Linked DNA regions of Homo sapiens. The protein of the gene in region 6 purifies or fractionates together with the protein of the main gene of each other region. This does not show direct contact. Each region holds a gene or a part of one and is shown on either strand. Other genes may lie near its edges.

Region 1 (3,500 bases), on a different chromosome or scaffold from region 6:
ATTTAGCTTGAGCAATGAAAATTCACTAGTCAAGGCCAGGCATGGTGGCTCACGCCTGTAATCCCAGCACTTTGGGAGGTGCTGAGGTGGGCGGATCACGAGGTCAGGAGATCGAGACCATCCTGGCTAACACGGTGAAACCTCATCTCTACTAAAAATACAAAAAATTAGCCAGGCGTGGTGGCGGGTGCCTGTAGTCCCAGCTACTTGGGAGGCTGAGCAGGAGAATGGTGTGAACCCGGGAGACGGAGCTTGCAGTGAGCTGAGATTGTGCCACTGCACTCCAGCCTGGGCGACAGAGCGAGACTCCGTCTAAAAAAAAAAAAGAGGAGGGCCGGGCGCGGTGGCTCACGCCTGTAATCCCAGCACTTTGGGAGGCCAAGGCGGGCGGATCACGAGGTCAGGAGATCGAGACCATCCTGGCTAACATGGTGAAACCCTGTTTCTACTAAAAATACAAAAAAAAGTTAGCCGGGCGTGGTTGCAGGCGCCTGTAGTCCAGCTATTCGGGAGGCTGAGGCAGGAGAATGGCCTGAACCAGGGACGTGGAGCTTGCAGTGAACAGAGATCGCGCCACTGCACTCCAGCCTGGGTGACAGAGCGAGACTCTGTCTCAAAAAAAAAAAAAAAAGGAAAATTCACTAGTCAAATGACTGGGCCTGTCAGTATGACCTGAGTCATGCTCGAAGGGTGTAATTAACTAGTACATTAAAAATAACTGAGGTCGGGCGCAGTGGCTCATGCCTGTAATCCCAGCACTCTGGGAGTCCGAGGCAGGCCTGGACTTGAGACCAGCCTGGCCAACATGGTGAAATCCTGTCTCTACTAAAAATACAAAAATTAGCTGGGCATGGTGGTGTGCACCTGTAATCTCAGCTATTTGGGAGGCTGAGGCACACAAGAATCCCCTGAACATGGGAGGCAGAGGTTGCAATGAGCCGAGATCGCGCCACTGCACTCCAGCCTGGGTGACAGAGCAAAACTCTGTCTCAAAAAATAAAAACAAAACAAACTGAAGTGCCAGGTGCAGTGGCTCACATCTGTAATCCCAGCACTTTGAGAGGCCAAGGCGGGCGGATCACTTGAGGTCAGGAGTTCGAGACCAGCCTGGCCAACATGGTGAAACCCTGTCTCTACTAAAAATACAAAAATTAGGCGGGTGTGGTGTTGCACACCTGTAATCCCAGCTAGTCAGGAGGCTGAGGCAGGAGAATCGCTTTAACCTGGGAGGGGAAGGATGCAGTGAGCCAAGATTGCACCACTGCACTCCAGCCTGGGTGACAGATCAAGACTCAGTCTCAAAAAAAAAAAAAAAAGAGAGATCATAAGTAGTTTTCTGACAAACAAAATGGACTTTAGTGCTAACATTCTGTAAACACGGTTCATAGTTATGAAATTAAGGCTTTGATTAGTCTTTTTTTTTTTTTTTTTTTTTGAGACAGCGTCTCACTCTGCTGCCCCGGCTAGAGTACAGTGGCGTGATCTCGGCTCACTGCAACCTCCGCCTCCCGGGTTCAAGCGATTCTCCTGCCTCAGCCTCCTGAGTAGCTGGGACTACAGGCACGCACCACCACGCTCCACCAAAAGAAATGTTGGTGGAGTGTTTAGCAGTGGAATTAAGACATCAGGAAGCAAACCAAAGCATGAAAAGGGAAACTGTAAGGCACGGAAAAAAATGCATACAGAATTATTTCCCAAAATTTGTTCAAAAGCACTATAACTAAGGCGGGGTGCGGTGACTCACGCCTGTAATCCCAGCACTTTGGGAGACCGAGGCAGGTGGATCACCTGAGGTCAGGAGTTCGAGACCAACCTGACCAACATGGCAAAACCCCGTCTCTACTAAAAATACAAAAATTAGCCGGGCGTGGTGACAGGCACCTGTGATCCCAACTACATGGGAGGCTGAGACATGAGAATAGCTTGAACGTGGGAGGCAGAGGTTGCAGTGAGCCGAGATTGTGCCACTGCACTCCAGCCTGGGCAACAGAGTGAGACTCCGTTGCAAAAAAAAAACAAAAAACAAAAAACAAAACACACTATAACCAATAATTTGAATAAAGGATTCTTTGGCCAAATAAGTCTGTATGTACTCAGTACATACCACAGGAGTGCCCAAGTTGAGGACTACTTAAAAATTGAGTCAGGGGAGATGCAACGTCATCTCACCTACTAAAACAAAGGCCTGAGCACCAAAGACTAAAATAAACAAGAAATAATGAGGTAGCTGTGCTGGAGAGCATTCTTTAGAATATTTAAAACGACTGGCCGGGCGTGGTGGCTAACGGCCGTAATCCCAGCACTTCTGGAGGCCAAGGCAGGCGGATCACTTGAGGCCAGGAGTTGAGACCAGCCTGGCCAACATGGTGAACTGGGGCCATACCTAGTATCTTGGTCATCATATAAACTCCAGAAATAGCCTCACTAAAGATGGGACTCTGTGGGGCAGGAATACTGGTTCCTTTCGGTTTCTGGTTCTTTAGGGCCACATGTTAAACCTAAAAAAATATAGTTGCCATAAAATTACAAGTTACAGTCTCCACTAAAAATACAAAAATTAGCTGGGAGTGGTGGCAGGCACCTGTAATCCCAGCTACTTGGGAGGCTGAGGCAGGGAATCACTTGAACCTGGGAGGTGGAGGTTGTAGTGAGCCAAGATCCTGTCACTACACTCCAGCCTGGGTAACAGAGTAAGACTCTGTTGCAAAAAAAAAAAAAAAAAAAAAATTATGTATGTATGTATGTATGTATGTAAGAGCCCTCCTCAGTGGCAGATTAACTTTACGTAACTGTTACAAAATTTAATACTCTATCCAGAGGAGGGCACCCTAAGACCAGGAAAGAAACCATTGTTTGGGCTGCTCAGCTTCTGTGATCTGGCCTGGGAAACAAGGCAATTCACCAGGGAGTCATGCAGCACCTGCTGGCATCACACAGGGAGCGTCATGTAGTAACATAACATTCATGTGCGATACACTCTGAGAACTTGGTGAATCCAAATTCACAGATGCCACTGGATCACATGATTGCCTCTGCAAATTACAGAAAAAAAAGTTTCCTTGGATGTTGCTGCTGGGCAGTTGGCTGGGTAAGCTCATTAGCTAAGTGATTTATTCTAGGCACATCAGTTCTTTTTTTTTTTTTTTTTGAGATGGAGTCTCACTCCGTTGCCCAGGCTGGAGTGCAGTGCCATGATCTTGGCTCACTGCAACCTTCGCCTCCCGAGTTCAAGTTATTCTCATGCCTCAGCCTCCTGAGTAGGTGGGATTACAGGTGCGTGCCATGCCCGGCTAATTTTTATATTTTTAGTAGAGATGGGGTTTCACCATGTTGGCCAGGCTGGTCTTGAACTCCTGACCTCAAGTGATCTGCCCACCTCGGCCTCGCAGAGTGCTGGGATTACAGGCGTGAGCCACCACGCCCGGTGGTACATCAGTTTTGCGGTGCACACAACTCAAATGTACAATGCATAAAGACTACAAACGAGTAGAGGGCCGGGT
Region 2 (4,001 bases), on a different chromosome or scaffold from region 6:
AATCGCTTGACTCCAGGAGGTGGAAGTTGCAGTGAGTCGAGATCGCACCATTGCACTCCAGCCTGGGCAACAAGAGCAAAACTCCGTCTCAAAAAATTAAAAAAGTAAAAAGAAAAAGACAACAGAGAAAACAAGGTTCTTCTCTACCTCAATCCTCTTAGCATCTCTGGGAGGAGAAACAGCTTTTGCTTCCCTGTATGGAGGTCTGGGGGGTTCTCACCTCAGCCCTGCCTCAGCAAAGGGGGCCTTGGAGAGCCCAGGGCAGCGGGGAGCAAGGTGCTGGCAGAAGAGGCTGCTGAGAGCCCAAGATCAGACTGTCCGCACCCCAGGCCAGCTCTTGCGGTGGATTCTGGGACCTCCCTGCAGGCCGCTGCAGAGGTTCGGGCCCCTGAGCCCATCTCGGGCCGCCCACAATGTCTAGATGGTCACTTTTTAGGCCGTCACCCACATTCCTGGAATATCTCTGGATACAGCTGGAAGCCCACAGGCGGGTCCAGGTCCCCGCGGACAGGAGTCAGGGTCACAGACAGCCCCCCAGGGCGCCGGCCCCTACGCCCCTCGCCCCCGGGCCGATGGACCCATTGGTGCTTGGCCATGCCGGTCTTCAGGCCGAAGCAGCGGCCACACTGCGGGCAGCGGTAGGGCTTCTCGCCAGTGTGAACGCGCAGGTGAGAAGTCAGCGCCGTGCGGCGCATGAAGGCCCGACCACACTCGGGACAGCGGTGGGGCCGCTCCCCACGATGGATGGCCCGGTGTTTGCTCAGGGAGGAAGCGTGGCCGAAGCCCTTGCCGCAGTCTGCGCAGTGGAAGGGCTTCTCGCCCCTGTGGCTGTAAATGTGCTCCACCAGTGTGGAGCGCCAGGCGAAGCTCTTCCCGCACACGTAGCAGCCGTGACGCTGGTCAGCTCGGGGGACAGGGGGGTGGGCAAAAAAGCGGGGGCGACTCCGGCGCCGGGCCTTGGACAGCTGCTCCAACCCGGCAAAGGGGGCTTGGGGAGCCTTCAGCCCAGGAGACCCGGCGGCCACAGGGTCGGGCTTCTCCAGGGCTCCCGTCCCTTCCCTTTGTCTTTCCTCTTCCTTGTTTCTGGAATCTGCTGAAAGATAAGGAGGCGAGAGTTCAGGCTTGGCTCATCCTGGTCATTGAATCCCACAGCCCGCGTGGACAGGGACAGGCCTGCTGGACCCCCGACTGCTCCTAGGAGATGGAGGAGTGACACCTGTTCCTCGGCTGCAGAGCCAGACAGAGCCTGGAGGGAGGGAACAGTCCATTCCGCCTCCGGGCTGGGGAAATGTCACCGCGGGGGAAGGGCAGAGATGACGTGAACATCTGGGCCTGATCTGGAATAAGAAGCGGACACCTGGGGATATTCCAGGCAGAAGGAACAGCACCAAGAAAGGCAGAACCAGGAGGGCATGGCCAAGTTCAGTGGGGCTGGATACTCTGCAAAAGCTGAGGCAAGAACTAAAGGAAGGAAATGGGAGGGCGGGATGTGGGGGCATAGGAACCATAGTGCAGGAAAACGACTGGAGCGGGTCATGATGTGGAGGTAGAGTCAACAGAACCTAGAGGCCGGGTGCAGTGGCTCATGCCTGTAATCCCAGTGCTTTGGGAGGCCGAGATAGAGGATCGCTAGAGTTCGAGACCAGCTCGGGCAACACACCAAGACCTCTACCTCTTTAAAATTTTTTTAATTAAAAAAAAAAAAAAAAAACCAGCCAGGCGTGGTGGCGAGTGCCTTTACAGTGTTAGGTACTCTGGAGGCCCACGCGGGAGGATTGGTTGAGCCGATTGCTTGAGCCCGGGAGTTCAAGACTGCAGTGAGCTATGATGGCGCCACTGCACCTCAGCCTGGGCAACAGAGACCCTGTCTCTAAAACAAAACAAAACAAAAAAGTCCCCGGAGTGTAGTGACCACGCAGAGGTGAGGACTCAGGGGCGGGTATGGCAGGGCCAGAGCCCCCATCACAGCCCCTTTCTAGGCTGCATCCCGGAGCCAGGCAGGGGCTCAGCCTCCTGGCCGCAGTTGAGGAGGCAGTTCAGAGAGGAAACTGCTAAGCAGGTAGCTGGAGGTGGCAGAGGGTACCGGGATGGGACAGGAACAGAGAAGTCCCCATGGGACTGAGCACCCGATACTCCACCTGGGTCCGCTTCTGTCGGACACTTCGCCACCTCCGGATCCTGGGCAGCCGGATCCCACAGTTCGGCCTTCTCCTCCACCCAGGAGATGAGCGCCGGCTTGCTGCCTCCGACTCCTGGGGGAGAAGAACGCAAACCCCACGCTGCGAGGAGGCCGCCTGCCCGGCCCCGGGGCCCCCAACTCCACACGCAGCTCCCAGAGGCGCGGCAGGGCCTGTGGAGGCGCAGGGCCCAGGCAAGCAGGTGGGGCTCTCACCGAGCGCGCCCAGGTGGCCGTAGGTCTCCCGCATCACGTCCCGGTACAGGGCCCTCTGCGCGGGCCGCAGGCAGCCCCACTCCTCCCGGGAGAAGTACACGGCCACGTCGGCGAAGCTCACGGCCCCGGGCTTTCTCCACTCGGATCCCGCCCCGTTTGGGTCCCGGGGAGGGAGCGGGGCCAGAGGCGGCGCCATGGGGACTGTCAGCCCCAGCGACGGATCGGTCATCTCCCCTGGCCAGGCCTGGGCATGCGGAACCTCCCGCGCCCGAGAACACTTCCCCGGCCCGGTACCAAGGGAAGGAGGGACGTCAGTAGAGCCCCCGAAGGCCCACTAGAGGGGATGGAAACTAAGGGCCGATGGCTGCGAGTCCATGGTCAGAACTGGACGATGTCTTCAAATAAAACGGCGGCAGCGCGACCTCTCGACCTTTGCCCCTGCGCAATTGTACCCACGACGACGCCCCCCTCCCCGCGCCCCCGCTCCAGGCCCAGTTCTCTCCTTGCCCTAATCCAAAATGGCCGTTGCGGCTACAGGCGCCGGCCTTGAAAACCAGCCGCGCATGCTCCGGCCCCGCCAGGTGAGGCGGCGCAGCTCAGAGCTTCCGCCCGGGTTTGCGGGAACAAAGCAGCGCCCTGCGGAAGGCAGCCCTCGTGAACTCAGAAGTTAGTTTTCGTCTCTGGACCTTTTTATAATCGGACTTCAGCCCATCACTGTCTCGTTTTGTCCTCAGAAACGGCGACAGCAGCCTCTTCCCAATGTTGAGAGCAAAAAGTGTGAACCCAGAAATTCCGAGACAGATCTCAATTACTTGCCAAGGTTGAGGACGCGCGCGTGACAGCCTCAGGAAGTCCTCACGACATGTGCCCAAGGTGGTCTGGGCATAGCTTAGTTTTATACATTTTATGGAGACATGAGACATCAATAAATGTATGTAAGAAGTACATTGGTTCTGTTTGGAAAGGCGGGGCAACTTGAAGCAAAGGCAGGAAGACGTGAAGCAGGAAGGGGGCTTCCAAGAAACAGAAGGTGAGGCACAAACGGTTGCATTCTTTTGAGATTCTGATTAGCGTTTCCAAAGGAGGCAATCAGATATGCATCTGTGTCAGCCAGCAAAGGGGTGACTTTGAATAGACTGGGAGGCAGGTTGGCCCTAAGCAATTCCCAGCTTGACTTTTTCCTTTAGCGTAGTGATTTGGGGGGGTCCCAAGATTTATTTTCCTTTCACAAAAGCCATGGAGTGGATACAGGAGAACCTCCTCTATTGTAGGCTTTTTGGAGCTTGAAATTCTGGGAGCTTCTAGATGGCGGAAGCAGCGGGGAGAATAGGGTAAGGCTGAGAAAGTCAGAGGGCCCTCTCTTCTAGGAGCTTCTCCCATGTGCTGTGCAGGACGCCTCCCGACCGCCTGTCTCCCTCTAGCTGCAGCCAGGCTCTTGGCTTCCCTGACGTCCTGCCCCTGCGCGGATGGCCCAAGGCTCCTAGGCTCAAACCCAGCTCATCCCTTTCTTACCCCAACCTGCTTCCCCTGGGGTCTTTATCTCAGTAAAAGTCGCCAGCTCTCCCCTGAGACCTCCTTCTCACACTTCCTGATGGCCTACTCTGTGCTC
Region 3 (3,500 bases), on a different chromosome or scaffold from region 6:
GGGGATTACAGGCATGAGCCACCGCACCCCAGTGACATCATTTTTTCATATCGTCAGTTAGAGAACTGCCATTTCTTGCTCATAATCACTGTTCCGAGATTTGGAATCTGAAAAGGAAACACTTCTGTAAATAAACCAGGCATGGTTACAGCTCATTGTGAACCTATAATCTAATAATATTTGTATAATTTTTAATAATTTATCATGATTATTCTTGATCTACATTTTAGGGGAAAAATGGGAAGACCCGAATGTTGAAGATCAACACAAAAACCAAGGACGAAATCTAAGGTGAGTTGCACTCACAAGAAGTAACAGTGTTCCTTGAAAGAATCTTAAAAATGTTATGGCCGGGCACGGTGGCTCACACCTGTAATCTCAGCACTTTGAGAGGCTGAGGTGGGTGGATCATGAGGTCAGGAGTTCAAGACCAGCCTGGCCAACATGATGAAACCCCGTCTCTACTAAAAATACAAAAAAAGTTAGCCAGTTGTGGTGGTGGGCGCCTGTAATCCCAGCTACTCTGGAGGCTGAGGCAGAGAATTACTTGAATCCAGGAGGCAGAGGTTGCAGCGAGCCGAGATCGCGCCACTGCACTCCAGCCTGGGCAACAGAGCGAGACTCTGTCTCAAAAAAAAAAAGAAGTTGTGACACTTTTAAAACAAGAAGCAAGCTTAGCTCCAAATTTATTTATTTATTTGTTTTATTTATTTTTTCTTGAGATGAGGTTTTGCTCTGTCACTCAGGCTGGAGTGCAGTGGCATGGTCTTTGCTCACTGCAACCTCCACCTCCCGGGATCAAGTGATTTTCCTGCCTCAGCCTCCCAAGTAGCTGGGATTACAGGGACGTGCCACCACACCTGGCTAATTTTTGTATTTTTAGTAGAGACAGGGTTTCTCCATGTTGGCAAGGCTGGTCTCAAACTCCTGACCTCAGGTGATCTGCCCGCCTCAGCCTTCCAAAGTGCTGGGATTACAGGCACGAGCCACTGGGCCCCAAATTTATTTATTATCAGAAAATGTTTACCAAAAATGTTTTCTCAAGTGACACAGATGTCCACTGGCTGAAAAATATTATACTTGGGCCGGGCACTGTGCCTCACGCTTATAATCCCAGCACTTTGGGAAGGTGAGGTGGGCGGATCACCAGAGGTCAGGAGATCAAGACCAGTCTGGCCAACACAGTGAAAACCTGTCTCTACTAAAAATACAAAAATTAGCCGGGTGTGGTGGCACACACCTGTCATCCCAGCTACTCAGGAGGCTGAGGCAGGAGAATCACTTGAACCTGGGAGGCAGAGGTTGCAGTGAGCCCAGATCGCACCACTACACTCCAGCCTGGGCGACAGAGTGAGACTCCATCTCAAAAAAAAAAAAAAAGAAGAAGAAGAAGAAAGAAAAATATTGTACTTGGGAACAGTTTTGTTTGTTTGTTTGTTTTGTGAAACAGAGTCTCGCTCTGTCACCCAGGCTGGAGTGGAGTGGTATGATCTTGGCTCACTGCAACCTCTAACCCCTGGGTTCAAGCAATTCTTCTGCCTCAGCCTCCCAAGTAGCTGGGATTATAAGCGCGCACTACTATACTGGGTTAATTTTTGTTTTGTTTTGTTTTTTTTGAGACGGAGTCTCGCTCTGTCACCAGGCTAGAGTGCTGTGGCGCAATCTCGGCTCACTGCAACCTCCCACTCCCTGGTTCAAGGGATTCTTCTGCCTCCGCCTCCCAGGTAGCTGGGATTACAGGCATGCATCACCATGCCCGGCTAATTTTTGTGTTTTTAGTAGAGATAGGGTTTCACTATGTTGGCCAGGATGGTCACGATCTCCTGACCTCGTGATCTGCCCACCTCGGCCTCCCAAAGTGCTGGGATTACAGGCGTGAGCCACCATGCCCAGCCAATTTTTGTATTTTTTAGTAGAGATGGGGTTTCACTATGTTGGCCTGGATGGTCTCGATCTCCTGACCTCGTGATCTGCCCGCCTCGGCCTCCCAAAGTGCTGGGATTACAGGGGTGAGCCACCATGCCCAGCCAATTTTGTATTTTTTAGTAGAGATGGGGTTTCACCATGTTGGCCAGGCTGGTCTCAAACTCCTGACCCCAATTGATCCACCCACCTCGGCCTCCCAAAGTGCTAGGACTACAGGCATGAGCCACCATGCCAAGGTGTGGAAACAGTATTTTATTTTATTTTTATTTTTATTTTTGAGACGAAGTCTTGCTCTGTCACCCAGGCTGGAGTGCAGTGGTGCCATCTCAGCTCACTGCAAGCTCCGCCTCCCAGGTTCACGCCATTCTCCTGCCTCAGCCTCCCGAGTAGCTGGGACTACAGGCGCCCACCACCACGCCCGGCTAATTTTTTTGTATTTTTAGTAGAGACGGGGTTTCACCCTGTTAGCCAGGGTGGTCTTGATCTCCTGACCTCATGATCTGCCCGTCTCGGCCTCCCAAAGTGCTGGGATTACAGGCGTGAGCCACTGTGCCCGCCCAGAAACAGTACTTTAAAGCCTCACATATAATTTCCGGAAGCCAAGGTGAGCAGATCATTTGAGCTCAGGAGTTCGAAACCAGCCTGGGCAACAAGACGAGACCCTGTCTCTACAAGAAACAGAAAATTCAGTCAGTTGTGGTGGTGCATGCCTGTAGTCCCAGCTACATGGGAGGCTGAGGTGGGAGGATTGATTGAGCCCGGGAGGTCAAGGCTGCAGTGAGCCATGATTGCATCACTGTACTCCAGTGCGGGTGACAGAGTGAGACTCTGTCTCAAAATGAAACCAAAAAAAAAAAAACCCATACCTCAATATTACTGTTTTGATAATAGCTATCAGTGACACAAGCCCTCTTGCAGAACATTGAGTATATTCGTTTTTAAACAAGTCAGACGGGGCAGAAAACTATTTCCCTGAAAATGATAAAAATTTAGTTCTGCTGCCGGGTGCGGTGGCTCACGCCTGTAATCCCAGCACTTTGGGAGGCCAAGGCGGGCAGATCACTTGAGGTCAGGAGTTCAAGACCAGCCTGACCAGCATGGTGAAACCACGGCTTTACTAAAAATACAAAATTAGCTGGGCGTGGTGGCGCATGCCTGTAATCCCAGCTACTTGGGAGGCCGAGGTAGGAGAATTGCTTGAAGCTGGGAGGTGGAGGTTGCAGTGAGCTGAGATCGCACCATTGCACTCCAGCCTGGGGAACAAGAACAAGACTCCGTCTCAAAAAAGAAAAAAGAACTTTAGTTCTACTACCCGATAATACATATAAAATCATTAATACACAACCAGTATTACCGTGCTTCTAATTTTTTACAGAAGCCATACGGGAGAGAGACTCTGTGAAGGTAAAGAAGGTAGTCAATGTGCAGAAAACTTCAGTCCCAATCTCAGTGTGACGAAGAAGACTGCCGGAGTAAAACCATATGAGTGTACTATCTGTGGAAAAGCCTTCATGCGTCTCTCATCCCTTACTAGACACATGAGGTCTCACACTGGATACGAGCTATTTGAGAAG
Region 4 (4,224 bases), on a different chromosome or scaffold from region 6:
TCACTTCCTCAATTCAAAGCTGCGCCCGAGGCAGTGTTTCTCAGGTTCCCTTCCTCTGCAAGACTCCATTCGAGTCAGACAAGACTGGAGAGTTGTTAGATGCCTCGAAGGCCAGATGGTTCTCTCAGTCCAATTCTCCTTTGTATCACCCTCACCTGGAAGGAATCCTGCCTCCCTGTGAGGAAATCTAACAACAGGGACTAAGGCTGCCAGGGATTGAGTTAAACTCAGGCGCTGGGGAAGGTGGAGGGGAGAGGCAAGGGGTGTGAGGCTGACGAGGAGGAAGGGTGTCTGTCCTCAGATCTTCTGGCTTTCATAAAACATAATGGAGGCTAAGTGGGGGCGGGAAAAGTTTTGATGGCACAGGCCGGGCTGGAGGGGAGATGCCTGGCACCTCCCTCCCACTACCTCCTGAAGGCGCTTCTGGCCGACAGGGGAGGCGGACCCGACCACAGCACTCCCGGCCAATCAGGAAGGCGCCTGGCGTTCCCTGGCGACCATTAACGCCCAGCCGTCCGCGGGGTTGGAGGAGGCGGGGCGGCTAGAGCACGAGCCCCATCGGCCAACCGCCGGGCTTCCTGGGGCGGAGAAGCTGTGCCTCTGGGAGCCGGGGCGGGGCTGTCTCCTTGGCAACTATCCTAGCCCTCGAGGAGGGAGGAGGGAGGAGGAGGATCAGGGGAGCCGAGCTGGGTGGGGGCCGGAGGAACGGGAGCGGGCGCGCGCAGGTGCCGGGGAGCGGAGTTCCTGGAGGGGGTCCCAGGCTCAAGGACCTCGGCGAGGCCAAGGGGAGTCCGTCCCGGTTCCCGAGGCGCTGCCGGAGCTGACCCGGAGGCCCGGGAGGGGAGGGAGCGAGACACCGCCCCCGCTGGCGCCGGGAAGCGTCGCTCCTTCTCGCTGACCTTGGTCTCGCTTGTCGCCTCGCCCTTGGCCACACGCACCGACGACGCGGGGCCCGGGAGATGGACAGACGGGCCTCTGGAGGGACGGAGACCTAGAACATAGGCACACACACTGCCCCGGTAGCCCCGCGGGCTCCGGGGCGTCCGGTCCTCACCCACCCCGTGGCCGGGCCCCTCCAGCCCAGGGTTAATGCCAACGAGTTTCCACCTCCAGCGGCTCCTAGAGAGGCCGCGGCGCGAGCCGGCGGGGGGACCTGGCCGCGGACGGACACTTCCTGTGCGGGGGAGGGTGGGGGGGTGCTGGGCGGCCGTTGGACAGTGCAGCCCAGCCCGGGGCCGGGGTCCAGAAGGTGGGGGCTCGGGCGGGAGCGGGGGCCGGGGGCCGCCGGGGTAGTCGCGAAGCCCCTCATCCCCGAGGCCGCGACGCGCGGGGGCCAGTGAGGGCCACGGGGAGGCCGAGACCTTGGGAGGGGGCGGGGCCGCGGGCAGGGGAGGGGCCCGGCGCGCTGGAGAGGCGCGGGGTCAAGACGTCCGGCCTCGGGGGCCCGGGCTGGGCCGCCGAGTCCCCTGGGCGGCGCTGAGCGGGCGGGAGGCGGGGGCCCGCGGCTCGGGGCAACCGAGGCCGGGTCGCGGGATCGGCCGCCATCGCCGCCGCCGCTGCACTGGGAGCCCGCGGGGATGGAGCGGGAGGCGTTGCCGTGGGGCCTCGAGCCCCAGGATGTGCAGAGTTCTGACGAAATGAGGAGCCCCGAAGGGTACCTCAGAGGTGAGGAGGGAGCGCCCGTCCGAGGAGTGGACTTGCGCGCAGGAGAAGGGGCTGTGGCTCCAGGGAGGGAGCGAGGGCCCGGGGCTGGGACACCTGGGACTCGAAGGAGGGGCCGGCGGGGACTGGGGTGTCTTGGGTCAGCTGAGGGGGGCGTGGGAATTTCAGCACTTGTCTAGGGGCCAGCGACCCTGCATGTGAGGTGGGAGGTGTGTGGTTGCTAATGGACCAAATGACCTTCCAGGTCTCACACGATCTGGATTCTCTCATCCTGCAGGCAACATGAGTGAGAATGAGGAAGAGGAAATTTCTCAGCAAGAAGGCAGTGGGGACTATGAAGTCGAAGAGATACCATTTGGGCTTGAACCCCAGAGCCCTGGGTTTGAGCCACAAAGCCCAGAGTTTGAACCCCAAAGCCCCAGATTTGAGCCTGAAAGCCCGGGGTTTGAGTCCCGAAGCCCTGGGCTTGTGCCCCCAAGCCCTGAGTTTGCACCCAGAAGCCCTGAATCAGATTCTCAGAGCCCTGAGTTTGAATCCCAGAGCCCTAGGTATGAACCCCAAAGCCCTGGCTATGAACCTCGGAGCCCCGGGTATGAACCCCGGAGCCCTGGCTATGAATCTGAGAGCTCTAGATATGAATCCCAGAACACTGAGCTCAAAACCCAAAGCCCAGAATTTGAAGCTCAAAGTTCCAAATTCCAGGAAGGTGCGGAGATGCTTCTGAACCCCGAGGAAAAGAGTCCTTTGAATATCTCCGTAGGAGTTCACCCCCTGGACTCCTTCACTCAGGGGTTTGGGGAGCAGCCCACAGGGGACCTGCCCATAGGGCCACCTTTTGAGATGCCCACAGGGGCCCTGCTGTCTACACCGCAGTTTGAGATGCTTCAGAATCCCCTGGGTCTCACAGGAGCCCTTCGAGGTCCAGGTCGGCGGGGTGGCCGGGCCAGGGGTGGGCAGGGCCCTCGGCCTAACATCTGTGGCATCTGCGGGAAGAGCTTCGGGCGGGGCTCCACCCTGATCCAGCACCAGCGCATCCACACCGGTGAGAAGCCCTACAAATGTGAGGTCTGCAGCAAGGCCTTCTCCCAGAGCTCTGACCTCATCAAACACCAGCGCACCCACACTGGCGAGCGGCCCTACAAATGTCCCCGTTGCGGCAAGGCCTTCGCCGACAGCTCTTACCTGCTTCGCCACCAGCGCACTCACTCTGGCCAGAAGCCCTACAAGTGCCCACATTGTGGCAAGGCCTTCGGCGACAGCTCCTACCTCCTGCGACACCAGCGCACCCACAGCCACGAGCGGCCCTACAGCTGCACCGAGTGCGGCAAGTGCTATAGCCAGAACTCGTCCCTGCGCAGCCATCAGAGGGTGCACACCGGTCAGAGGCCCTTCAGCTGTGGCATCTGCGGCAAGAGCTTCTCCCAGCGGTCGGCCCTTATCCCCCATGCCCGCAGCCACGCCCGGGAGAAGCCCTTCAAGTGCCCTGAGTGCGGCAAGCGCTTTGGCCAGAGCTCGGTGCTGGCCATCCACGCCCGCACCCACCTGCCAGGCCGCACCTACAGCTGCCCCGACTGCGGCAAGACCTTCAATCGCTCCTCCACTCTCATCCAGCACCAGCGCTCCCACACGGGCGAGCGGCCCTACAGGTGCGCCGTGTGCGGCAAGGGCTTCTGCCGCTCCTCCACGCTTCTGCAGCATCACCGGGTCCACAGTGGCGAGCGGCCTTACAAGTGCGATGACTGCGGAAAGGCCTTCTCCCAGAGCTCCGACCTCATCCGCCACCAGCGGACCCACGCGGCGGGCCGGCGCTGACCTGGGGCCCCAGCAGGGGTGGGAGGTGTGGGCAGAAGATAAGGGGCCAGGGAGCTAGAGGAACCTTTAGGGAGGATAGTGGAGAAGCCGCAGGAGAATGGAGGAGCTGAGGATGCTGGAAGAAGAGAACCAGGGTGGAGGAAGTGACATGCCCTGGAGACTTGTGGGAAGTGGGTTGGAGGGAGGCCAGGCCGGCAGCGGGAGGCCCTGGGAGAAATGGAGAGAGGTCAGCGGAGGGCTGGCCTCAGCCGCGGCTCCTTGGTGGGTGCCTGGCTTGGCAACTGCTAGAGCAGGGAGGGGGGAGGGCAGGGGATTACCTAATTAGAGTGGGTTAGCTTAGATTGGTAGCTGCTGAAACTCTCGTTGAGTCAGGAGCGGGTAAAAGGTAGGTGGGGTGGGGAGTGGGGCCCCGGGGTGGGGCCTGGGCCTCTGCGTGCAAACCCCAGCCTCCCTCTTCTTCCTCAGGCTTTGGAGCCCCTGAGTTTGAGTTCAATAAAAACTTTATGTGGTAAACGAGACTTGTCCTTAAAATGTGTGCGTGCACAGCGCCCTGGGAAGTGGGAGACACCAGTAGTAGCCTAGGGCCTTATCCGGGAAGTGCTTTGCTGTTGCTGCTGTTAGAAAGCGGGTCTTGCTGTGTTGCAGCAGGCCACCGCACCTGGCTGGAAGTGCTATTTGTTTCTTTTTTTTTTTTTCTTTTTTTTGAGACGGAGTCTTACGCTGTCACCCAGGCTGGAGTGCAATGGTGTG
Region 5 (3,500 bases), on a different chromosome or scaffold from region 6:
TTTTTTGGTAGATGGGGGTCTCACTATGTTGTCCAGGCTGATCTCTAACTCCTGGCTCAAGTGATTCTCCCATCCTGGCCTCCCAAAGTACGTAAATATGATATCATATATATCATATAATTGATGAACCAATATATCATATATGATGATGATCAGAATTGGTGAGCCAATATGTTACTAACTAAAGTTTACACTTCATCAAAATTGGTAATTTTTGTTCTTCAAAGGACACCAAGAACTTGAAAAGATAATTCACCAAGTGGAAGAACGACTTGCAAATCCTGTGTCTGGTGGGGCATCTTATCCAGAAGCAGCCTGAGTCTCAGTCCCCTCCATCACACTCCATCAGGGTGGGGGCTGAATTGGCAGCCAGGACTCCCAGGTATCCTGTCCCATCACTGTAGGAGGCAGTCTACCTCCTGGACCTCTCTCTGGGCAGTTGTGCACCTGCAATCCTGGATCTCACCCAGATCATGGGGTGACAACAGGGAGTGGCCATCCAGAGAGAAATCTGAGCCTGGTGTTTTGGGTTTGTGGGTGGGAGGTACTCTCAGGACACCCTCCCCCTCCATGGATTCAGACTTGGGTGGGCCCAGCAGAATGGCATGTGTGGTTCCCAGCTCCTTCATCCCCAGTGGGAGGGAGCCTGTCATCCCCTATGCATTTCAGATAAATGAACCAGGGTCTCAAGTTTACAGCCTTGTTCCCTGTTAAAGAGAGATTGCACTGGAAACTTGTTAAGAATGTCAAGGAAAAGTTTATTAAGCACAATTGCAGTGAGTCATGACAGCTGTAATAGGGGAGGGAGATTGAATTCAGCCTTGAATGCAGCAGGAATATTATTGGATTTATAGCCAATGTACAAGGTGAGGGAGAGAATGGAACTTGGTTGGGTCTCATAGGTGGGAGAAAAAGAACTTGATTGGATATTAAGGTAGGAGGAGTCTCTATAAACTACCTTAGATGGATTCTTGCTGAAACTGACTTCTGCAGGCCAGTGCCAAGCCCTAGTCAAAAAGAGGGCTCTGAGGAGCTTGACTCAAGTTTGGTGAAGGAAGGAGTACTTGAGACCTCTTCAGCCTAGTTTTTCTTTCTTTCTTTTTTTTTTTTTTTTTTTTTGAGATGGAGTCTTGCTCTGTCACCCAGGCTGGAGTGCAGTGGTGCGATCATGGCTCACTGCAACCTCTGCCTCCCAGGTTCAAGCAATTCTCTGCCTCAGCCTCCCAAGTAGCTGGGGTTACAGGTGCCCACCACCAGGCCTGACTAATTTTTTTTTGTATTTTTAGTAGAGACAAGGTTTCACCATCTTGGCCAGGGTGGTCTTGAACTCCTGACCTCATGAGCCACCGTGCCCAGCCTCTTCAGCCTAGTTTTTCCCAGGGCTCTGTATTAGTCTGTTTTCATGCTGCTAATAAAGACATACCCAAGACTGGGTAATTTATAAAGGAAAGAGATTTCATTGACAGGTCAGTATGGCTGGGGAGGCCTCAGGAAACTTACAAGTATGGTGGAAGGGAAGCAAACATGTCCTTCTTCACATGGCAGCAGCAAGGAGAAGTGCAGACTAAAGGTGGGGGAAAGGTGGGGGAAGCCCATTATAAAACCAGATCTCATGAGAACTCACTATTATGAGAACAACATGGAGGTAACCACCCCAATGATTAAATTATCTCCCACTTGCTCTCTCCCATGACATTCAGGGATTATGGGAACTACAAGAGGAGATTTGGGTGGGGACACAGCCAAACCATATCATTCCACCCCCAGCCCCTCCCAAATCTCATATCCTCACATTTTAAAACAATCATGCCCTCCCAACAGTCCCCCAAAGTCTTAAATCATTCCAGCATTAACTCAAAAGTACAAGTCCAAACTCATCTGAGACAAGGCAAGTCCCTTCTGCCTATGAGCCTGTAAAATCAAAAACAAGTTAGCTACTTCCTAGATACAGTCATTGGGTAAATATACCCATTCCAAATGGGAGAAATTGGCCAAAACAAAGGGGCTAGAGGCCCTATGCAAGTCCCAAATCCAGTAGGGCAGTAATTAAATCTTAAAGCTTTGACATAATCTCCTTGGCCAGGCGCGGTGGCTCACACCTGTAATCCCAGCACTTTGGGAGGCCGAGGCAAGCGGATCATGAGGTCAGGAGATCAAGACCATCCTGGCTAACATGGTGAAACCCTGTCTGTATTAAAAATACAAAAAATTAGGCATGGTGGCACGCGCCTGTAATCCCAGCTACTCGGGAGGCTGAGGCAGGAGAATTGCTTGATCCCAGAAGGCGGAGGTTCCAGTGAGCCGAGATCATGCCACTGCACTCCAGTCTGGGTGATAGAGCCAGACTCTGTCTCAAAAAAAAAAAAGAAAGAAAAAAAGAATCTCCTTTGACTCCACGTCTCACATCCAGGTCATGCTGATGCAAGAGGTGGGCTCCCTCAACCTTGGGCACCTCTGCCCCTGTGGCTTTGCAAGGTACAGCCCCCACTCCTGGCTGCTTTCACAGCTGGCACTGAGTGTCTGTGGCTTTTCCAGGTGCGTGGTGCAAACTGTCAGTGGATTGACCATTCTGGGGTTCTTGAGGACGGATGGTGGCCCTCTCCTCACAGCTCTACTAGGCAGTGCCACAGTGGGGACTCTCTGTGGGGGCTCCAGTTCCCACATTTCTCTTCTGCGCTGCCCTAGCAGAGGTTCTCCATGAGGGCTCCGCCCCTGTAGCACACCTCTGCCTGGACACCCAGGCGTTTTTGTACATCTTCTGAAATCTCGGCAGAGGTTCCCAAACCTCAATTCTTGTCTTCTGTGCACCCACAGGACCAACACCACATGGCAGCTGCTGTGGCTTGGGGCTTGCACCCTCCGAAGCCATGACCCGAATTGTACCTTGCCTCCTTTTAGCAATGGCTGGAGTGGCTGGGCACAGGGAACCAAGTCCCTAGGGTGCATACAGCAAGGGGCCCTGGACCAGGCCCAGGAAACCAACCATTTTTTCCTTTTAGGATTCTAGGCCTGTGATGGGAGGGGCTGCCATGAAGGTCTGTGATGTGTCCTGGAGACATTTTCTCCATTGTCTTGGTGATTAACATTTGGCTTCTCGTTACTCACAAATTTCTGTAGCTGGTTTGAATTTCTCCCCAGAAAATGGGTTTTTCTTTTCTTTTCTTTTTTTTTGAGACAGAGTTTCACTCTTGTTGCCCAGGCTGGAGTGCAATGGCGCAATCTTGGCTCACTACAACCTCCACCTCCCAGGATCAAGCGATTCTCCTGCCTCAGCCTCCCGAGTAGCTGGGATTACAGGCATGTGCCACCACGGCCAGCTAATTCTATATATTTAGTAGAGAAGGGGTTTCTCTATGTTGCTCAGGCTGCTCTCAAACTCCTGACCTCAGGTTATCCGCCTGCCTCAGCCTCCCAAGGTGCTGGATTACAGGCATGAGCCACCACGCCTGGCTGGGTTTTTTTTTCTGTTCCATTGTCAGGCTGCAATTTTTCCAAACTTT
Region 6 (3,500 bases):
CTACAGGGAACGTATAATATTAAAGGTTGATTACACCCAGTTATTGGTTAGATTTTTAGAAATTTGTCAATGGAAATTATCTCAAATACAATATATTGGATGGAAAAGCAAGTATCATACAATCTATTAAAATTTTTAACATACAAAACAATACCATATGTTCTAATGGATGCATCCCTGTCTAACAAAAGTACAAAAACATCTCAGGGAAGGATTCATTCCTACCGAGACAGTGGTAGCTGATGGGTCAAGGGATGAGGATGGTGTGAGGCTTTAGCTGTATCTGAAATGTTTCTTAACAAAACAAAATGAGCCAAGACCAACATGACAAAATGTTAGCATTTGTTAAATCTGAGCAGTACTCACTGGTATTTGCAAAATTATTTTCTGAACACTTGAAATAATTTATAATTTTAAACATTTCCAATGCAAGAACATTATAAACTTTTAAGAATAAAGTAAAAATTTAGCTTAAGAAGTGGCAAAATGGAGGAAATATCAACATCTTCACAACTGACAATTCTTTCTGTGTTGCATGTCTCTGACAGACATAGACGAGTGCACTGCAGGGACGCACAACTGTAGAGCAGACCAAGTGTGCATCAATTTACGGGGATCCTTTGCATGTCAGTGCCCTCCTGGATATCAGAAGCGAGGGGAGCAGTGCGTAGGTAAGTACCACAGTGCAGTGAGCACGGTCCTGTCTTGAGTACCTTAACTGTTTCAACCTCAAGCATTCCAATCAAAGCATTCATGTTTCTTTGGAGAGTGGTAGCCAATAATTCCTTATTTTTTTATAGACTACCAATCCATTTTCCACAATAACAAGAAACAACCTTAAAGGTTGAGCTATTCTGGATAACAAAGTGTTGGTTAAATGTTAGACGAAGCAAGAGCAGAAATTTGGGGTATGAATGGGACAATAAAAACAACCACAAAAAAATTTAAATTTGCTGTTTTGGGGGCCATCGCGCTAACACACTGGTACTGTGGGCTTCATTCACCATTCACTGCTGCAGAGCATAGCATAGCACAGCACATAGAGCAAATGGTGGAGTTGCATTCCAAGCACCAACCCCAGCTCGCTTTGAGACCTTGAGCAAGTTACTTAAATCCTGTGTCTCACTATGTTCACTTGTACTGTGGAGATGATACTAGGCCCTACCTCCAGAGCTCATGTAGGGAATGCTTAGAATAGTGCCTGTCCCTGTGCAGTAAAGCTGTTTGCTATCGTTGTATTCTGAGTCAACAGATGGGTATTAAAGGCTCTTTATACTGCAAGCCTTTGTAGGGTACCATGAGTACAAAGCCAAGTTCAGCACGTGCCTCTGCTGGAGGGCCTAAGAGCGTGAGCTCCCTGACAGCAAGACCAGGTCATCTTGTGTCACTGTGGTCTCCCCAGTCCCTGAAGTGTGCCCACCATGTGATGGAGGCTCTATGCGTGTGTTTTGAGTGAATGGAAGATCAAAGTATGAGGAAGCCAACTGGCAGATAGTGAAGTAAAATACAGTACTCTGGGCTCAATCATGAGGCCCAGCACTAGGCATGAAACTCTGACTGTCCATTTATTTACATACCCCTTCTTACCACAGATCAGTGAAAAAGCCTTATTTCCTCTTAGGAACAGAGGGTGAGGATGTGGGGACAGACAACCAGCGTCAGTTTTCGCCTGAGAATGTGAGCTGTTGATGTTCACATGTCAACACTGAGTTCCATGTGGGCCCCAGCCCAGTTCTGTCTGCCATAGGGCTGTGCCTAGATGCTGGGGTTAGTGCCCAGCCTCTGAGGAAGGCCCAGGGTTTGCTATAAATGAAGCTGTGATTTAAAAGAAGAGTGTGTAGAAAACTCCAGAGATAACAAAGTTTGGCCATTGTATTAGACAGGAAAATAAATATTTGAGGGCATAAAAAGTACAGAAAAAAGAACTAATCCAACTTAGTGTGGGGTGAATCAAAGATAATGGAACATACGGTCACAGCCCTTTTAATGTGGTAGGAGGAAATATTCCTAAACTCAGATCTAATCATGTGTCTTCCCCTCCTGCTTCCCTCACTGAGAGAATCAAGTCTACATTCCTCGACAGAGCATGAAAGGTCTTGCTCAATCTGATCATTGTCCAGTTCTGTTGCATAAACACCTCTCCCCCACCACAAAATATTACACCCCAGCTTTATTCCACCAGTTCCCCACACACGTCACACAGTGTTACTTACACTTTGGTGCCTCTATACAAGCTCTTTACACAACAAAAACATTCCCTCCTGGCAAATTCTTATTTCACTGTCAAATCCTAGCTTAGGATCACTTCCTCTGGGAAGCCTGCTATGATTTACCCAAATATAATTAGTTGCTCCTCCCCTGTGCCAGTACTTCTCAAATTATGATGAAGGATACTTTTTTGTAAATTTCCAATCTACGGCAGACCAATACTTCTGTAAAGCACAATAAAAATAATGTTGCACTAATGTCAAATTGCTATTTCTAAACATGTACTCTCAGTTTCTGTATTTATTCATTGCAGACTGGTCCAAATAGCCCATGAACCAGCAGCAGTCAGCAGGCCACACTTCAAGTAGCATGGTGCTCCCTGTGTCCCATACACTCCTTTCTATTGTTGATCTTCTCATTCCATGGAATAATTTGTTTCATGCCTGTCTTTCATACCAGACAAGGCAGAACACATGTATACTGATTATCATTATAAACTTGGGGTGCCAAACACAGTACCAGCAAATAAGAATGGTTCAATGAATGTTTATTAGTTAAGAAGACATGCGTCACATATTCACCAAATAGTTATTGAGGGCTTACTGTGTAACAAGCATTGTTCTAGGAACTGGGATAATAGTAAACAAATTTTACAAATTCATAGCCCTCGTGGAGCTATTAGAAAGTATAATACCATTCATACAAATTAGCTATCAATACTAGCACCTGATGATAGTACTGAGGACTAGGAAGCACTATGCTAAAATTGCTCTTAATTAGTGTGAAGTTTCGATTTATTCGAATAATGTTTATTGAACACCTACTACTATGCCAGGCCCTATTCCAGATCTAACAATGAACAGACAAAAAACCCTCTACCTCCACCTCAAGGGGAGAATGTCATGCACTATAGTGAGGGAACACACAAGAAGCAAATAAACACATAACACAATGTCGAGTACTGTTAAGGACTACAAAGAAGTCTAAAGCAAGGTAAGGGAATAGATAGGGCAGAAGAACCTATTTGATATTGGTGGGAAAGGTGGCCACCCTGAGGAGGTGACATTTGAATGGACACCTGAACCAAAGTAAGGGGAAAAGCCATGTGAATATCTTCTTACTATTTATTTCAGTATTCAAGTTAAATCAAATATATCTTGCAGCTTATTAGCTCCCATTTATGTTTACTTGCTTTGTGCCAGTAACTTTGCCTACATTATGTCTTGTAACCCTCCCAATAATTCTACTCACAGAAGAGGAAATGCAAGCTCGAGAAGTTAAGACCAAGCTAG
Region 7 (3,500 bases), on a different chromosome or scaffold from region 6:
CCACTCACTGAATTTTTGCTTATGTATAAACCCAAGTAACTACCACCTACATCAATACATAGGCTATCTCCAGCTCCTCATCAGGGTTTTATGCCCTCGATAGCTTCTTTGATTCTATTAGCTCATATTTAGACTTCATCAGCACAGATTGGTTGGCTGTTGTTGAACTGCACAGTGTGCTCTCTGACATATCTGTCTTCTTTTGATCATCATGTCTGTGTTATTCTTTTGAGGTGTTTATATACAGTCGGAGTTGGTTCATTCTCAATATGTTGTAGTTTCTCATTGTATGTGAAACTGCCATCCATTTGTCCATTACCCTGCTGATGGATGTTCCTGTTGTTTTCAGGTTTTGGATATGTTGCTGAGAGTATTATTGTTCATATTTTCTGGTGGATGTAAATACTGATTTCTGAATTGTGTGTTAACAGTAAATTCTGTTAGAATATACTCGTGTGTACATATCAGGTCATGGAGTAGGTTGTATATTCAGCTTTCTTTTTTTCTTTATTATTTTTTGTAGAAATGGAGTCTCACTATGTTGCCCAGGCTCATCTTGAACTCCTGGCCTGCACTGATCTTCCCTCCTTGGCCTCCTAAAGTGCTGGGATTATAGGCATGAGCCACACTGTGTGGGTGTGTTCAGCTTTAAAAGAAACTGCCCAGCAGTTCTGCAGAATGTACCATTTCACTTTCTGACCATGGACATGTGAAAGTTTCCATTGCTCCACATCTTCATAATCACTTGATAACATCATTCCCCTTTGGGAGGTCTAGGCGGGCGGATCACTTGAGGTCAGGAGTTATCAGCCTGGCCATCATGGTGAAACCCCATTTCTACTAAAAATTTAAAAATTAGCTAGGTGTGGTGGCAGGTGCCTATCATCTGAGCTACTCAGGAGGCTGAGGTAGGAGAATTGCTTGAACCTGGGAGGTGGAGGTTGCAGTGAGCCAAGATCACACCACTGTACTCCAGACTGGACGACAGAGCGAGACCCCATCTCAAAAAAACAAACAAACAAAAAAAACCATCATTTCATTTTACTGTTTGAGTCCCTGTGGTAGGTTTCTCTATATCACAGCACAGAAACCATTGTAAGGTCACTCCTTTCATTCCTAATTTTCAAATACAACAGTGACCATAATGATAACTGATGATGGCCCACAATTTACCGATCTCTTATGTAGTGTCTAGCACTGTGCCAAGTGCTTTATAGAAATTTTCCCCTTTTTTAAGAGACAGGGTCTTCCTCTGTCGCCCAGGCTGGAGCGCAGTGGCACCATCATAGCTCACTGTAGCCTCAAACTCCTGGGCTCAAGCAGTTCTCCTACAGAGTAGCTGGAACTACAGGCTCATGCTACAACGTCCGGCTAATTTATTAATTTTTTTGTAGAGATGGGATATTGCTATATTGCCCAGGCTACTCTTGAACTCTGGGCCTCAAGCAATTCTTCTGCCTTAGTCTCCCAAATGTAACGGGATTACAGGCATGAGCCACCGTGCCCAGCCAAGAATTTTCCTATTTAACCCTCATCACAGCCTATGAAACAGAATCTGAGAGTTTCTGTTTTTCAGATGAGGAAGTGGAGACTAGGATCAACTAAATCATTTCTCTGGCATCAGCTGACTTGGTACAGGCAAGATTTGAACTGAGATGTTCTGACTCCAGAGCTACACTCTTAACCTCCCTTCAATATGAACTCACGATTCAGCACAGAGTTTTCATATTTTGTGCTTGAGCATTGGGCCGTCTTAGATTCTCTTTCTCTGTTCTCACTGGGCTTTGGTTCTCTTTTTACTCTGATCTTCACTTTTATGTTGGCTTCATCAGTTATCTCATAGCCCATCCTTTTTACTCTTACATACTCTCCAAGGCTAATCCACACATTCTTTTTATTTATTATTATTACTTTTTTTTTTTTTTTAAGAGATGGATCTGGCTATGTTGCCCAGGCTGGTCTCGAACTCCTGGGCTCAGCTTCCCGAGTAGCCAGGATTACAGGCAGTACCTTTCAGATTGTGTCTTTTTCTAGTATTTTCAGGTTATTGTTTCTCAGGGTTGTATTGAATTTCTGGATCAGTTTTTAGAGAATTGATAATTTTATATTATCAATTTCTTCATTCAGTTAGATCTTTATTGTCTTGAAATAAAGTTTTATTATTTTCTTTTTCAAGATCCAGTTGTTTGTTAGCCTTTTCGCCTACCTTTCACCTTGACAGTGGATTCTATATGTCTACCAGGATTCTGTTCACCCTCTGTCCTAGGAGCTCTGTCCTAAGAGTAGCTGTGGCCATCACTAGCTGTCCCTCAGGCAGAATCTTGAGCATCAGCTTCGTCTCCGCCCCTTCCTGTCTCTGAATCCTGATCAACCTTAACTTCTTATGGGGCTGCCTCCTCTCACTGCAGTCCTCTGGATTCGCTGAAGACTCTGTGTCTTTGTATATTCTATGTCCTAAGGCTAATATGTCCTTCTAACTTTAAGCTCATGAAGCATCCTCTCTGGGAAGCCTCCTTGACCTCTTCCTGTCCCTGCCCCTTCTAGGCTACATTAAGTGCCCCTTCCCTGGCCTCTTGTAGCTCCTTGACATGTTCTTGAGCAAGCTTATGATAGAGTGTCATCATTATGATGTCCACCTAGTCTCATCTTGACTGTGAGTGGGGATCTCTATTCCAGACCATCTGTACTCTGCTTGAGCTTCTCCCTCTGGGTTTCTCTTTAAAAATTTCAAGAGTTGGCCAGGCACGGTGGGTCACGCCTGTAATCCCAGCACTTTGGAGGCAGAGGTGGGCGGATTACTTGAGCCCAGGAGTTCGAGACCAGCTTGGGCAACATGGTGAAACCCCATCTCTATTTTAAAAATACAAAAAATTTAGCCAGGCGGGGTGGCTCACACCTGTAATTCTAGCATTTTGGAAGGCCGAGGCAGGCAGATCACCTGAGTTCAGGGGTTCTAGACCAGTCTGGCCAACATGGTGAGACCTCATCTGTAAAAATACAAAAAAATTAGCCCAGCATGGTGGCGCACACCTGTAATCCCAGCCACTTGGGAGGCTGATTCAGGAGAATTGCTTGAACCCAGGAGGCAGAAGTTGCAGTGAGCTGAGATCATGCCACTGCACTCCAGCCTAGGCAACAGAGTGAAATTCCATCTAAAAAAAAATAAACAAAAAAAAGCCAAGCGTGGTAGCATATGCCTGTAGTCCAGCTACCTTGGAAGCTGAGGTGGGCAGATCCCGGGTGATCCGCCTCAGCCTCCCAAACCAAAGTGCTGGGATTACAGGCATGAGCCACCATGCCTGGCCTTTTTTTGAGATGGGTTTCCCTCTGTCACCTAGGCTGGAGTGCGGTGGCTCAGTCTTGACTCACTGCAGCCTCCACCTCCCAGGTTCAAGCGATTCTCCTGTCTCAGCCTCCCCAGTCGCTGGGATTATAGCCGCCCGCCACCATGCCTGGCTAATTTTTGTATTTTTAGTAGATATGGGGTTTCACCATGTTGG

What was found.
Region 1: the proteins of EFEMP1 (region 6) and ZSCAN21 purify together in Homo sapiens (affinity purification with mass spectrometry; 2 studies listed by BioGRID and IntAct, with this or other methods). This does not show direct contact.
Region 2: the proteins of EFEMP1 (region 6) and ZNF747 purify together in Homo sapiens (affinity purification with mass spectrometry; 2 studies listed by BioGRID and IntAct, with this or other methods). This does not show direct contact.
Region 3: the proteins of EFEMP1 (region 6) and ZNF791 purify together in Homo sapiens (affinity purification with mass spectrometry; 2 studies listed by BioGRID and IntAct, with this or other methods). This does not show direct contact.
Region 4: the proteins of EFEMP1 (region 6) and ZNF768 purify together in Homo sapiens (affinity purification with mass spectrometry; 2 studies listed by BioGRID and IntAct, with this or other methods). This does not show direct contact.
Region 5: the proteins of EFEMP1 (region 6) and ZNF627 purify together in Homo sapiens (affinity purification with mass spectrometry; 2 studies listed by BioGRID and IntAct, with this or other methods). This does not show direct contact.
Region 7: the proteins of EFEMP1 (region 6) and ZNF460 purify together in Homo sapiens (affinity purification with mass spectrometry; 2 studies listed by BioGRID and IntAct, with this or other methods). This does not show direct contact.

Annotation. Positions count from the first base shown.
Region 1 is NC_000007.14:100,052,774-100,056,273, reverse strand, and holds part of ZSCAN21 (zinc finger and SCAN domain-containing protein 21), read right to left. Parts: intron 1-3,500. UniProt on the Homo sapiens protein: Strong transcriptional activator. Plays an important role in spermatogenesis; essential for the progression of meiotic prophase I in spermatocytes.
Region 2 is NC_000016.10:30,532,059-30,536,059, forward strand, and holds the start of ZNF747 (zinc finger protein 747), read right to left. Parts: upstream 2,801-4,001; 5' UTR 2,622-2,800; coding exon 2,393-2,621; coding exon of another isoform or gene 2,253-2,392; coding exon 2,139-2,252; intron 1,094-2,138; coding exon 441-1,093; 3' UTR 1-440.
Region 3 is NC_000019.10:12,624,420-12,627,919, forward strand, and holds part of ZNF791 (zinc finger protein 791), read left to right. Parts: intron 1-230; coding exon 231-291; intron 292-3,301; coding exon 3,302-3,500. UniProt on the Homo sapiens protein: May be involved in transcriptional regulation.
Region 4 is NC_000016.10:30,523,767-30,527,990, reverse strand, and holds ZNF768 (zinc finger protein 768), read left to right. Parts: upstream 1-1,424; 5' UTR 1,425-1,577; coding exon 1,578-1,665; intron 1,666-1,939; coding exon 1,940-3,474; 3' UTR 3,475-3,987; downstream 3,988-4,224. UniProt on the Homo sapiens protein: Binds to mammalian-wide interspersed repeat (MIRs) sequences in euchromatin and promoter regions of genes at the consensus sequence 5'-GCTGTGTG-[N20]-CCTCTCTG-3', consisting of two anchor regions connected by a linker region; the linker region probably does not contribute to the binding specificity.
Region 5 is NC_000019.10:11,603,983-11,607,482, forward strand, and holds part of ZNF627 (zinc finger protein 627), read left to right. Parts: intron 1-227; exon of another isoform or gene 228-382; intron 383-3,500. UniProt on the Homo sapiens protein: May be involved in transcriptional regulation.
Region 6 is NC_000002.12:55,878,783-55,882,282, reverse strand, and holds part of EFEMP1 (EGF-containing fibulin-like extracellular matrix protein 1 precursor), read left to right. Parts: intron 1-548; coding exon 549-671; intron 672-3,500. UniProt on the Homo sapiens protein: Binds EGFR, the EGF receptor, inducing EGFR autophosphorylation and the activation of downstream signaling pathways. May play a role in cell adhesion and migration. May function as a negative regulator of chondrocyte differentiation.
Region 7 is NC_000019.10:57,286,985-57,290,484, forward strand, and holds part of ZNF460 (zinc finger protein 460), read left to right. Parts: intron 1-3,500. UniProt on the Homo sapiens protein: May be involved in transcriptional regulation.